Homo sapiens: one gene and its partners. The protein of the gene in region 2 interacts with the protein of the main gene of each other region in a biochemical or structural test. Each region holds a gene or a part of one and is shown on either strand. Other genes may lie near its edges.

Evidence for each region.
Region 1: the proteins of LRRK1 (region 2) and CPLX3 form a complex in vitro, tested with the Homo sapiens proteins (one large-scale study listed by BioGRID).
Region 3: the proteins of LRRK1 (region 2) and PDCD4 form a complex in vitro, tested with the Homo sapiens proteins (2 studies listed by BioGRID and IntAct, with this or other methods).

The regions. Positions count from the first base shown.
Region 1 is NC_000015.10:74,824,979-74,828,728, forward strand, and holds the start of CPLX3 (complexin-3), read left to right. Parts: upstream 1-1,648; 5' UTR 1,649-1,725; coding exon 1,726-1,889; intron 1,890-3,055; coding exon 3,056-3,143; intron 3,144-3,153; exon of another isoform or gene 3,154-3,750. Other genes in the region: LMAN1L (protein ERGIC-53-like precursor), read left to right, coding at 498-627.
Region 2 is NC_000015.10:101,051,707-101,055,356, forward strand, and holds part of LRRK1 (leucine-rich repeat serine/threonine-protein kinase 1), read left to right. Parts: exon of another isoform or gene 1-4; coding exon 5-254; exon of another isoform or gene 255-683; intron 684-751; exon of another isoform or gene 752-1,215; coding exon 1,216-1,382; intron 1,383-1,516; coding exon 1,517-1,714; intron 1,715-3,239; coding exon 3,240-3,517; intron 3,518-3,650.
Region 3 is NC_000010.11:110,878,416-110,882,065, forward strand, and holds part of PDCD4 (programmed cell death protein 4), read left to right. Parts: intron 1-2,817; coding exon 2,818-3,120; intron 3,121-3,650. UniProt on the Homo sapiens protein: Inhibits translation initiation and cap-dependent translation. May excert its function by hindering the interaction between EIF4A1 and EIF4G. Inhibits the helicase activity of EIF4A. Modulates the activation of JUN kinase.

The DNA of each region.
Region 1 (3,750 bases), about 26 Mb from region 2:
GGGCAGGACGAGTTTGTGAAATTGGGCAAAGAGATCTGAAAAAGTGAGAGGAGGTCACTAGTTTTGCTTGGTGTGTGTTTGCTGAATGAACGTGCACCGTTTAGAGATGTGGGGTGTGCTAAAGGCCTCAGCAATGAGACTGACAATCTTTGTTGGTGGAATTTCAAGACAAGAAGAGTCCGTGTGGGCTGGGATGGTCCTGGAGGAGGAGTAAAATGAGCTAAGCTTTAAAAAGCACAAGGTAGAAATGCTCACAGGCTTCAGCACATGCACAGGAGTGCAGTGGTGGCAATCAGCCTGGAGCCACTAGGACAGACCTTACATGCCCAGGGGGAAAGCGTGGACCATATGCAGCGGGCCAAAGGAGCCACAGAAAGTCCAAGAACAGCGGAGGTTGTGGTGCAGTGAGTGTAGCAAGGCAAGCATGAGAGTCCTGGTTTTTCAAAAGCCCATAAAGGAGAGACGCAAGTAACCTGTAACCTTCTCTCTGGCAGCAGGCAGGAGCTGAACAAGAGCCTTCAGGAGTGTCTGTCCACAGGCAGCCTTCCTCTGGGTCCTGCACCACACACCCCCAGGGCCCTGGGGATTCTGAGGAGGCAGCCTCTCCCTGCCAGCATGCCTGCCTGACCCACCTCAGAGCCTGCTTTGCATCACTGGGAAGCAGGCAGTGTCTTGGGTGGGGGCTTGGTCAGTATCCTCTCCGTCTGGGTGCCCAGCTCCCACGCACACCTGAGCTTTCGGCATGCTCCCACCTCGTTAAAGGTGATTTCCCTCTCCCCATGCTGTGATATGCTGGTCTTCTTTCCAGCCTCACCCTAATCTCTGTGAAGGCTTCCACCCCTTCTGAGTACCTGGCTGGGAGTGCGCTCCAAGCAGGCAAGGAGGCCAAGGCCTGGCTTAACCTCCAAAAGACCGGATACCCCACGGGCTTTGAACCCTCGACTATGGAGGGAAAGAGAGCCATGACTGTATATAATTCTGTCCTCAAACTCACCCATAACAGAGAGCAGTGTCTCCCAGTGTCCCTCCTGGCCCAGCTCAGCCAGCATCACTGAGCAGCTCTCTCCCTCCCCACTCCTAGCTGCTCCAGGGGCAGCAGGGGAGGCGCGTGACAGAGCAACCCTGAGAGGCCAACTCGTGGAACCATAACTGGGATTCCCGCTCGCGCCCTCAGGTCTCCCTCCCTTTTCCAGCGTCAAGCTCTCTGGGCAGCTGCTGGGTTCAGTGACTTGGGTGGGTGGGGAGAATGGGGGGCACCCAAGGCTGGGTTTTTACCCCTTGCTGCTACCTGGATCTCCCAGCTGAAATCCTAGTTATTAGTGGCCCAGGAGAGGAGAAAGTTGGAAGAGGCTATGGAACAGGGTTCCGGGAGTGTATGAGCTCAACCCCTCTCCCGGGAGAGCGACCCCACCACCGCAGGCCCTAATCCTCTGTCAGCAGTGCCCAGCGGAGCTCGGCGTTGAAGGAGGCACGTGGGGGAGGCGGGAGTGGGGAGCGGGCACGTGGTCCAGCCTTCTCAGCCCCGTGCTGCCCCCCGCCCCCAGTGAGGAGGGGTTTGGGGAGGTGGGGGCGGGCCCGGGCGGGGGCGGGCGGCGGGCGGTGCCAAGCGTGGGGCGCGGGCCCGCGGCGGGAGCTGTCCGCGAAACCTAGTGCTGAAGTAGGCGCGGACGTGCCCGGTGCCTGGCGCGTGGTAGCAGGCGCCCGGTGCCCCGGCCGGCGAAGACCATGGCGTTCATGGTGAAGACCATGGTGGGCGGCCAGCTGAAGAACCTCACTGGGAGCCTGGGAGGCGGCGAGGATAAGGGAGATGGGGACAAGTCGGCAGCCGAAGCTCAGGGCATGAGCCGGGAGGAGTACGAGGAGTATCAGAAGCAACTCGTGGAAGAGAAGTGAGTGGGATCCCTTCCTGGCTCCAACGACCTCCCCTCCCCACCCCCACAGCTGCTCAGTCCATCCCCGGGCCAGCCTCAGGTCCCAATCCCTTCTCCCCTACTTTCCTAGACACGGTAAGAGACCGGGAGGTGTCCTCTACACTGCCCCCAGACCCATCCTATCTGACACCCAAAACCCCGCTCCAGCATCATGCTCCGGCCAAGGGGGAGTGGGGGGAGGGGCGACCGGACGAGGGACCGACCGGAGCCTGGGACGAGGAAGGGGGTGCACGTGCGTTTCTGACGAAACGATAATCCCTTAATCCGATCTGGTCCCAGCCGCCTATGTCTTCCAACTGGGGCTCCTCTGAACTTGAGGCTCTGAAAAAAGTGGTGCAGCCGCTCAGAGTCGCGGAGACAGACCCTGAGATGGGGGCACTCACAAACATTGAGCACTTGTGTGCCCGCAGTGCTGGGACAGAGTTTGGGGCTGGACTCTGCTGCTAGGCTACTTGGGTTCAGAGCCTGGCTTTGCCTATTAGCTGGATAACTTTAGGCAAGTTACTTAACCTTTCTGTGCCTCTGTTTCCTTTTCTGGAAAGTGGGGATGGTAATCATAATACATGCCTTGTATATTTATGAAGATTAAATGCCAATGCATGTAAACTGTTTAGCACAGCACCTGGCACATGATAAAGTCTCATAAATGATAGCTATTATTTCGCTCAATCCTGATAACAGTTTTGTGAGTTGCAAAATTTTATCCCCATTTTACAGAAGAGGAAGGTAAGTGACTTACCTAAGGATATACCTAAAATGGTAGTGGAGCTGGGATGTGAACCCAAGTTTGGCCTGAATACTTTTCCCCACATGACATAGCTTGTCAGTGAGGGAACAGCAGACCAAGTTGGAGGCCATGAGGGACAAATAATTAGGATCTGCAGAGAGAGCCAGACAGACTGCCACCCTGGTTCCCTAGTTCCATCCAGTGGCAGAGACGACAAAGGGCACTGTGATGGGCAGAGGCAGCAGAAACCTGGATGTCCGGGTTGGAGCGCTTTTGCTACACACAGGGACCAATGCAGCAGCTGCTAGGACTCAGAGACCCCTTCTGTCCCTCCCTCGAAGACCTCAACCCCCTTCTCTCAGCCCTCGTGGTGACTCTGCCTCCGGTGACCCTGCAGGATGGAGCGGGATGCACAGTTCACACAGAGGAAGGCAGAGCGGGCCACACTGCGGAGCCACTTCCGAGACAAATACCGGCTACCCAAGGTAAGCTGGCCCCGGCTGTGAGGCACATCTGGGACCCTGAGCTCTGGGTTCTGGACTCCTTCGCCCCATTCTGGGCACCACAGCCCTCAGCTATGAGACTCACAGGGTATTTGGTTAGATCCTTCCTTCTCATTCATTTGTTCTTTTATTCATTCACTCACTCGTAGTTAAATCTGTGCCCACCAAGGGCCAGGGCTTTGTGCTGAGGGGACCCCAGTCCTCATGAGACTGACAGGTCTGTATTTCTGGAGCCAATCTAGGCCTCTTCTCTCCTCCACCCCCCATATCCCCACCAAGCCTGGGCCAGGCCTGGGCAGAGGAAGACACAGGGGAGGCAGAAATCAGTAGATTTGACTGCAGAGGTGAGTGTTCTGGGGGTTTCTGAACCTACTGAAGGGCAGAACTTACTTAAGGTGGGGGAGAGAAGCCCTGTGTGTGCCAAGTACTTGACCTTCATGTCCTCATCTAACCCCCAATAATGCTGCCAGGCAGCTATCACCCACAGCGACAAAAGATGAAACTGAGGCTAAGAGAAATGGAGGGACTTGGCTAAGATCATACAGCCAGTGAGCCATGGAGCTGGGACCAGCCCTCAAGCCGGTGAATA
Region 2 (3,650 bases):
TTAGCCCTGACAGCCACAGAGAGCGACGGGACGCCACTCATGGAGCAGTACGTGCCCTGCCCGGTCTGCGAGACAGCCTGGGCCCAGCACACGGACCCCAGTGAGAAATCAGAGGATGTGCAGTACTTCGACATGGAAGACTGTGTCCTGACGGCCATCGAGCGGGACTTCATCTCCTGCCCCAGACACCCGGACCTCCCCGTGCCGCTGCAGGAGCTGGTCCCTGAACTGTTCATGACCGACTTCCCGGCCAGGTATGCCCCGAAGGCCCCTCCCAGAACACAGTGCAGGTCACAGGGGGCGTTCCTCGCTGTGCAGTTGCCGAGTGATCTCCAGGAAGACCCCTCTGGGGCGGGCAGGTGCCCCGGCCATGGCTTCCCACCAATCTCAGTACCTTTTAGGTTCCCATCCTCGGCTGCCTGAAAGGAACCAGGCTGCCGGCTTTCCATTTTGGAGGCCTTGATAGGCCCAACTGGGAAGAGTGCTTTGCAAGTGCAGCCATCCTGCCTCCCCATACGGCTCCCCCTTCCCCTCGTAGCCAGAGCTGCTCTCTCCTGAGCTGCCTCTCCTTTCCACTCCTACCTCCCCACCAGCTCTAGGGCCAGCAGATAAGTGCAGCCAGTGCTCCTCAAGCATTCAGGAAGGGGAGAGAAGGGAGAGCTCCCACCCAGAGCCTTGTTTACCTTCTTTGTCAAACGCTGACTCCTGTCTGTAGCCCTAGCGCTGAGCTCCCACCCAGAGCCTCGTTTACCTTCTTTGTCAAACGCTGACTCCTGTCTGTAGCCCTAGCGCTGAGCCTTGGACCCCTCAAATCTGTTCTTAGAGTTTATTGTACCTATGCTAACCCAAGATCATAACTAGAGAGAGAATCGGGGAGGAAATAGGAAACGTCACCTTTCAGAAGAAAACTTCCAAAGGGGTCCTTTCTCTACGGCCACCACTTCTGTGGGGTTCACCCTGTGCCAGCCATCACCACCTCTGAGGCCGTTCCTGTCCTGAGAGCCCTCTGTACAGAGGAGACTGAGGCTTAGCAAGCCTGCATAACCTACCCAGGTGTGCTCACCCACAAGTGGCAGGGCCGGGGTGGCCCAGATCTGTCCAGCCTCACAGATGGCTTTGAACCATGACTCTCGGCCGTTGGGGCAAATGACCCAGCCCAGGACCCACCCGCATCAGGGCGGGGGGGATGTGGCTGATGCCGGGCGTGTGTGGCAGGCTCTTCCTGGAGAACAGCAAGCTGGAGCACAGCGAGGACGAGGGCAGCGTCCTGGGCCAGGGCGGCAGTGGCACCGTCATCTACCGGGCCCGGTACCAGGGCCAGCCTGTGGCCGTCAAGCGCTTCCACATCAAAAAATTCAAGAACTTTGCTAACGTACCGGCAGGTAAGCGGGTCCCAGGTTGGTGCTGTTTTTCTCAGACATATGCTGCCCGGGTCTAAGCTCTGTGCGGCCTTAGAGAGGCCTGAGGCTGCAGGCACCCCATGTCCTACTGGCTGACACTGCGCTGTCCCTGGCAGACACCATGCTGAGGCACCTGCGGGCCACCGATGCCATGAAGAACTTCTCCGAGTTCCGGCAGGAGGCCAGCATGCTGCACGCGCTGCAGCACCCCTGCATCGTGGCGCTCATCGGCATCAGCATCCACCCGCTCTGCTTCGCCCTGGAGCTCGCGCCGCTCAGCAGCCTCAACACCGTGCTGTCCGAGAACGCCAGAGGTACCGCGGCGCGCCGCCCCACCCGGCCCCGGAGACCGACAGAGCCCCGGGCGCCTCCTGCCTGGCACGGGGGGTAGAGCCTCAGGTGGCCTTGGCAAGCCCAGGGCACGCCCAACCCATGGCTCGTGTGACCATCCCCTGGCTGCGAGGCCAGGCTCCCCGCCAGGTCCAGTCACTAGGCAGAGCCTTGGCGAGGACGGGGGAGCGCACACTCTGGAGTCGGCTAAGACCAGGCTCTGCCGCGGTCCGGAAAGCCGCTGAGTTTATTTGCCTGTAAAAGGAGGATGGTAACAGGCCTCGCTGGGAGGGCACCGAGCACGGGAGCTGCATTGAATCACTTTCCCAACTGCACACGTACACGGCTGCTGAGACTCTGAGACCGCAGGGTCAGTGGGACCATATTTTAACATAAAATGTCGAAGTAATTTACCTTGAGAAAAGAGCAGCTAAACTCCAGAGTGGCCAGAGGGTGAAAGGTAGCTGTCTTTTGACTAAGGAAGAAGAAATGCTATGAAAATCAATCACTTCTGCCTCAATGGAAGATAATTTTTTAAACAGAATTCTTTACTTTTTTTTAATACAGGATCTCACTTTGTTGGCCAGGCTGGAGGACAGTGGTGCAATCTCAGCTCACTGCAGCTTTGACCTCCTGAACTCAAGCCATCCTCCCACCGCAACTTCCCGAGTAGCTACAAGCACACGCCACCACACCCAGCTAATTTGTTGTTGTTGTTTGTAGAGATGGCCTTTCACCCTGTTGCCCAGGTCGTTCTCGAACTGTGAGCTCAGTCGATCCCCCCACTTTAGCCTCCCAAAGTGCTGGAATCACCGGCATGAGCCACACGCCCAGCCAAACAAAATGCTTCTACTTGCCTCTCACCCCTTTACGTAGGACAGCCTTGACCTGAGGTGAACTCTAGAGATTTCGAACCCTTGCTCATTCAGCAAAATGCCAGCAATTCCAGGAATAAGATATCAGGAATGAAGCTACAGCGATGAGCATTTCTATCCTAAATACTGTTTCACTTAACCAGGCCATTCTCTGTCCTTTATGGCAGTCTGGTGAATAGTGAGAATGTGTCAATGGAATATAAAGTATCTAAGGGCCAGGCGCAGTGGCTCACATGTGTAATCCCAACACTTTGGGAGGCCCAGGCGGGCAGGTCGCTTAAAGCCAGGAATTCAAGACCAGCCTGGCCAACATGGTGAAACCCCATGTCTACTAAAAATACGAAAATTAGCCAGGCATGGTGGCACGCGCCTATAGTCCTAGCTACTCAACTTGGGAGGCTGAGGCAGGAGAACTGCTTGAACCCTGGAGGCAGAGGTTGCAGTGAGCCAAGACCATGCCACTGCACTCCAGCCTGGGTGATAGAGGGAGACTCTGTCTCAATAAAAGAAAAAAGAAAAAAAATCATAAAGTATCTAGGGAGATCGGAAGACAAAAAGACAGTTGTTATCATGATAATTTGATTCTATCAAAACTGAAATTTTGATACATTTGAAAATTGTTTTTCTTTGCAAGATTCTTCCTTTATACCCCTGGGACACATGCTCACCCAAAAAATAGCCTACCAGATCGCCTCGGGCCTGGCCTACCTGCACAAGAAAAACATCATCTTCTGTGACCTGAAGTCGGACAACATTCTGGTGTGGTCCCTTGACGTCAAGGAGCACATCAACATCAAGCTATCTGACTACGGGATTTCGAGGCAGTCATTCCATGAGGGCGCCCTAGGCGTGGAGGGCACTCCTGGCTACCAGGCCCCAGAGATCAGGCCTCGCATTGTATATGATGAGAAGGTACGTGCCTGGATCCCCTGGCCCAGCCCCACAGTGTAGGAGCCCAGCCCTCAGGCTAGCCGGGCAGTCCTGGAGGCACCTGAAGCTTCGGGGCTCAGCATCCCCAAAAGCACATTTTTCTCACTCTCCCTTG
Region 3 (3,650 bases), on a different chromosome or scaffold from region 2:
ACTCCTGTGTCTTCTGGACCAGTTTTGTGGTTCACCTTAATGGCACAATGATGAAAGCACTATGTTACAGGTAGATGTTTAATGTTTTTCTCAACCATCCACTCTTACACGAAAATGTCATCTAATTTATGTGATCCTGATCTTTCTGTCCCCTTCCACTTAATCATTTTTGTTTATCTCTCTTTACATTCACGCCCTTGTTCGTCTCTTTAGCTGTCAATACTCTGCTGTATTCTAGTTTTGTATTTTCTGTAGTTATATGGGATTAAAAATGTGGGTTTGAATTCTAGCCATAATCCTTTCTAGATATGTAACTTCTTGTGAAACACATTCCTTCTGTAAAATGAGGATAAACAGTTTCTTTCTAGAGCTCTTGAAGCTTATAGACCACATATGTAAAGTGCCTTAGCTAATAGGTACCAGGTAGTGTGGAATCTAATAGGTACCAGGTAGTGTGGAACCTGGTATCTAATAGATGACAATAGTAATGGTAATGATGAAAGAAACAGTACTACGACTACTTCCACTAAGACTATAATTACTACTGATGGTTATGATGATGTCCCAAACACACCATCCTAACACCGGCTTCTTACCAGTTTGAAAACTTTTAAGGCATTGTTTGACTTCTCTTTAATCCTAGATACATTCTGCTTAAAAGTCCTTCATTATTTTCTTTAAAAGTGTAACATTATTATTTATCCCACAGTTACTACCCTTGCTCTTTACCAGTTAGCTTGTGACTGAATTACTGAAGCATTTTCTTAGCGGTTTCCTACTTTATACTTTCTCTTTTTGTAATATACTCAGTATTCTTCTGCCAAATGAATCCCTCCCATCTCTTCCCTATGATATCTAACTTAAGCTCTGACAATTTGAGTGTGGGAGTAGTTAGCAGTGATTCTGGTGAGGTAAGCAGGGGCAAGATCATAAAGGACCTTAAGTTACAAGGTAAAGAGTTTACATTTTGGCTGGGTGCGGTGGCTCACGCCTGTAATCCCAGCACTTTGGGAGGCCGACGTAGGTGGATCACGAGGTCAGGAGATCAAGACCATCCTGGCTAACACGGTGACCCCATCTGTACTAAAAACACAAAAAAATTAGCCAGGCGTAGTGGCAGGCATCTGTAGTCCCAGCTGGGGCAGGAGAATGGCGTGAACCCGGGAGGCAGAGCTTGCAGTGAGCTGAGATTGCACCACTGCACTCCAGCCTGGGTGACAGAGCGACACGCTGTCTCAAAAAAAAAAAAAAAAAAGTTTACATTTTTTGTGACATAATGGGACTACTTTTAAAGGATCTTCAGTGAGGGCATGCTTGAGAAAATCAGTCTTCATTCAGTATAGTTTGAAGACTGGAGGCAGGGAGACTACTTATGAGACTAGTGAAATAATTTGGCTCTAATTGATGATTTTGTTTAAAACAAAACATTCCTACCTTCCTAAGTATGTCAAGAATTGTAAAGATTTAAACACATGTATGCTTTTTATAGGTTGGTGAAAATTTTTGGTTTCAACATGTCTTAAAACATATTAAAGCCCATGCACATAGACCTGACATGTTATAATTATCTTTAGGCATATAGAAAATGATTTGAGTGATTCAGCTCTGATTTGCGTTAACAATAATGAACAAAACTGTGGCCCAGTGGTAGCTAATTCAGTAGCCTTTCTGACTTAAAGAGCTTTCAGGGCAAAGCCAAGTGCCTCCACTTGATCTCCATGGAATTTGAGTATGAAGGACACTCTGCTAGGTGATGGGGATACAAAGAAGGACATACAGTCTAGTTGTGGTTTCTCCTTTGAAGCTTATGACTTAGTTGGAAGAAAAAGACTGCTATATAAAAAGAAAGTGATTTCCATGACGTGTTGAATGAATAGTATGTGAGCAATTAGTGTTCCTGTACCTAGAGTTGTAAGGGAAGTTTTAATGCAGGGAGTAAGACTTGGGCTATATCCTAAAGGATTTTGATAACTGAAAATAACAGTGAGGGCGACATTCTACTGGGAACTCCAGTATGTTGATCTCTTTCAGAAGAATCAATTTTATATAGGCTGGAAGATTTACAGGATGGTAAGTAATAGGAGAAAAGTTTAGGGAGATGAATTAGGACTTTGAGATGTTGGCTTTTCTTGAAAGCAAACTTTGTCTTGAGGCAGTAAAGCATCAGCAGTTCAGCTCAACAATCATATGCGATTATTTGCTAAATGCCTTTCATTCTCTTTTGGATTACTAATAGTTCTTAAGTGTTTATACCTAGTTATGGGACGTTTGGCAAATCATTTAAACATTCTCAGCCTTAGTTTCCTTATCTGTCTTCAATGTTATAATAATTAACTGCCAAACTTGTGCATAAATAAATGATAGAGTGTCTAGCACAGTGCCTAATAGTAGGCATTCTATAAATATTAGTTTATCTCTCTTCTCAAGATGCTTTGTCTTTTCTTAATATCTCCAATTAGCTCATAAAAGTCTAAGGGTTTTATATTTGGTGTTGCTGTTAGCATAGATTTTATGATCTAAACGTGAAATAACATGCTTCTTTTGGTAAAAACAAACAAATTTGGTTTGTTTTTGGTAAGAAACAAACATGCTTTGTTAAAATTCAGTGCCTTGGTTTACTTTCCTTGATAATGTGAAAAGTAATCTTATTTAGTTGTTTATTAGATTGAAGTAGATGAAATTCCCAATATGTGACTGTAATTTACCTACAAAAATGGTAATGTCATGTGATTCAACCTAATCTAACTTACCACTATATCTATAAAACAGTAGATACTTAAAATACTTAGAATTTTTTTCTTCATTTTTCTCTTTAAGATCCTGATAACTTAAGTGACTCTCTCTTTTCCGGTGATGAAGAAAATGCTGGGACTGAGGAAATAAAGAATGAAATAAATGGAAATTGGATTTCAGCATCCTCCATTAACGAAGCTAGAATTAATGCCAAGGCAAAAAGGCGACTAAGGAAAAACTCATCCCGGGACTCTGGCAGAGGCGATTCGGTCAGCGACAGTGGGAGTGACGCCCTTAGAAGTGGATTAACTGTGCCAACCAGTCCAAAGGGAAGGTTGCTGGATAGGCGATCCAGATCTGGGAAAGGAAGGGGACTACCAAAGAAAGGTTGGTATATATCATGTCCAACAAATGGAAGATAAACAAGTGGAAAAAAATTGTCTGGTTCTTGTACTACACTTTCCTTGTTCTAGGAATGAGAGAGATTCAAAAAGTGAAAATGTAAGGCTTTACAGTTTGTATATATTTTTACTTAGTAATAATGTGAGAACCATCTCACTTTTTCTTTAGGTTGATGTTTTTTCTTGTTTGAGTAGATTTAATTTTCTTGAGCAGAATGTTAACGATTTATTTCCAGCAAAATATACACTGATGTTTTTCACTGTTACGAGTTTTACGTATATTCTCTAAGTTTGAAAGGAGTCAGAAATCCATCATACTTATTTAATATAATTATGTCCATTACTACTACTAATAAATATACATTTGATTGATAACGTCTAGATCTGAATTTTAATGTTTTCCTAGATCTCACGGTGAGTTCTCTTTAGCTCTTTATTTTGGGTTCTGTAGTAGATTGGTCTGTTTCACTGCTGTTTCTCTAGTACCCGAAATAGTGACTAGTACACTGTAGGCAA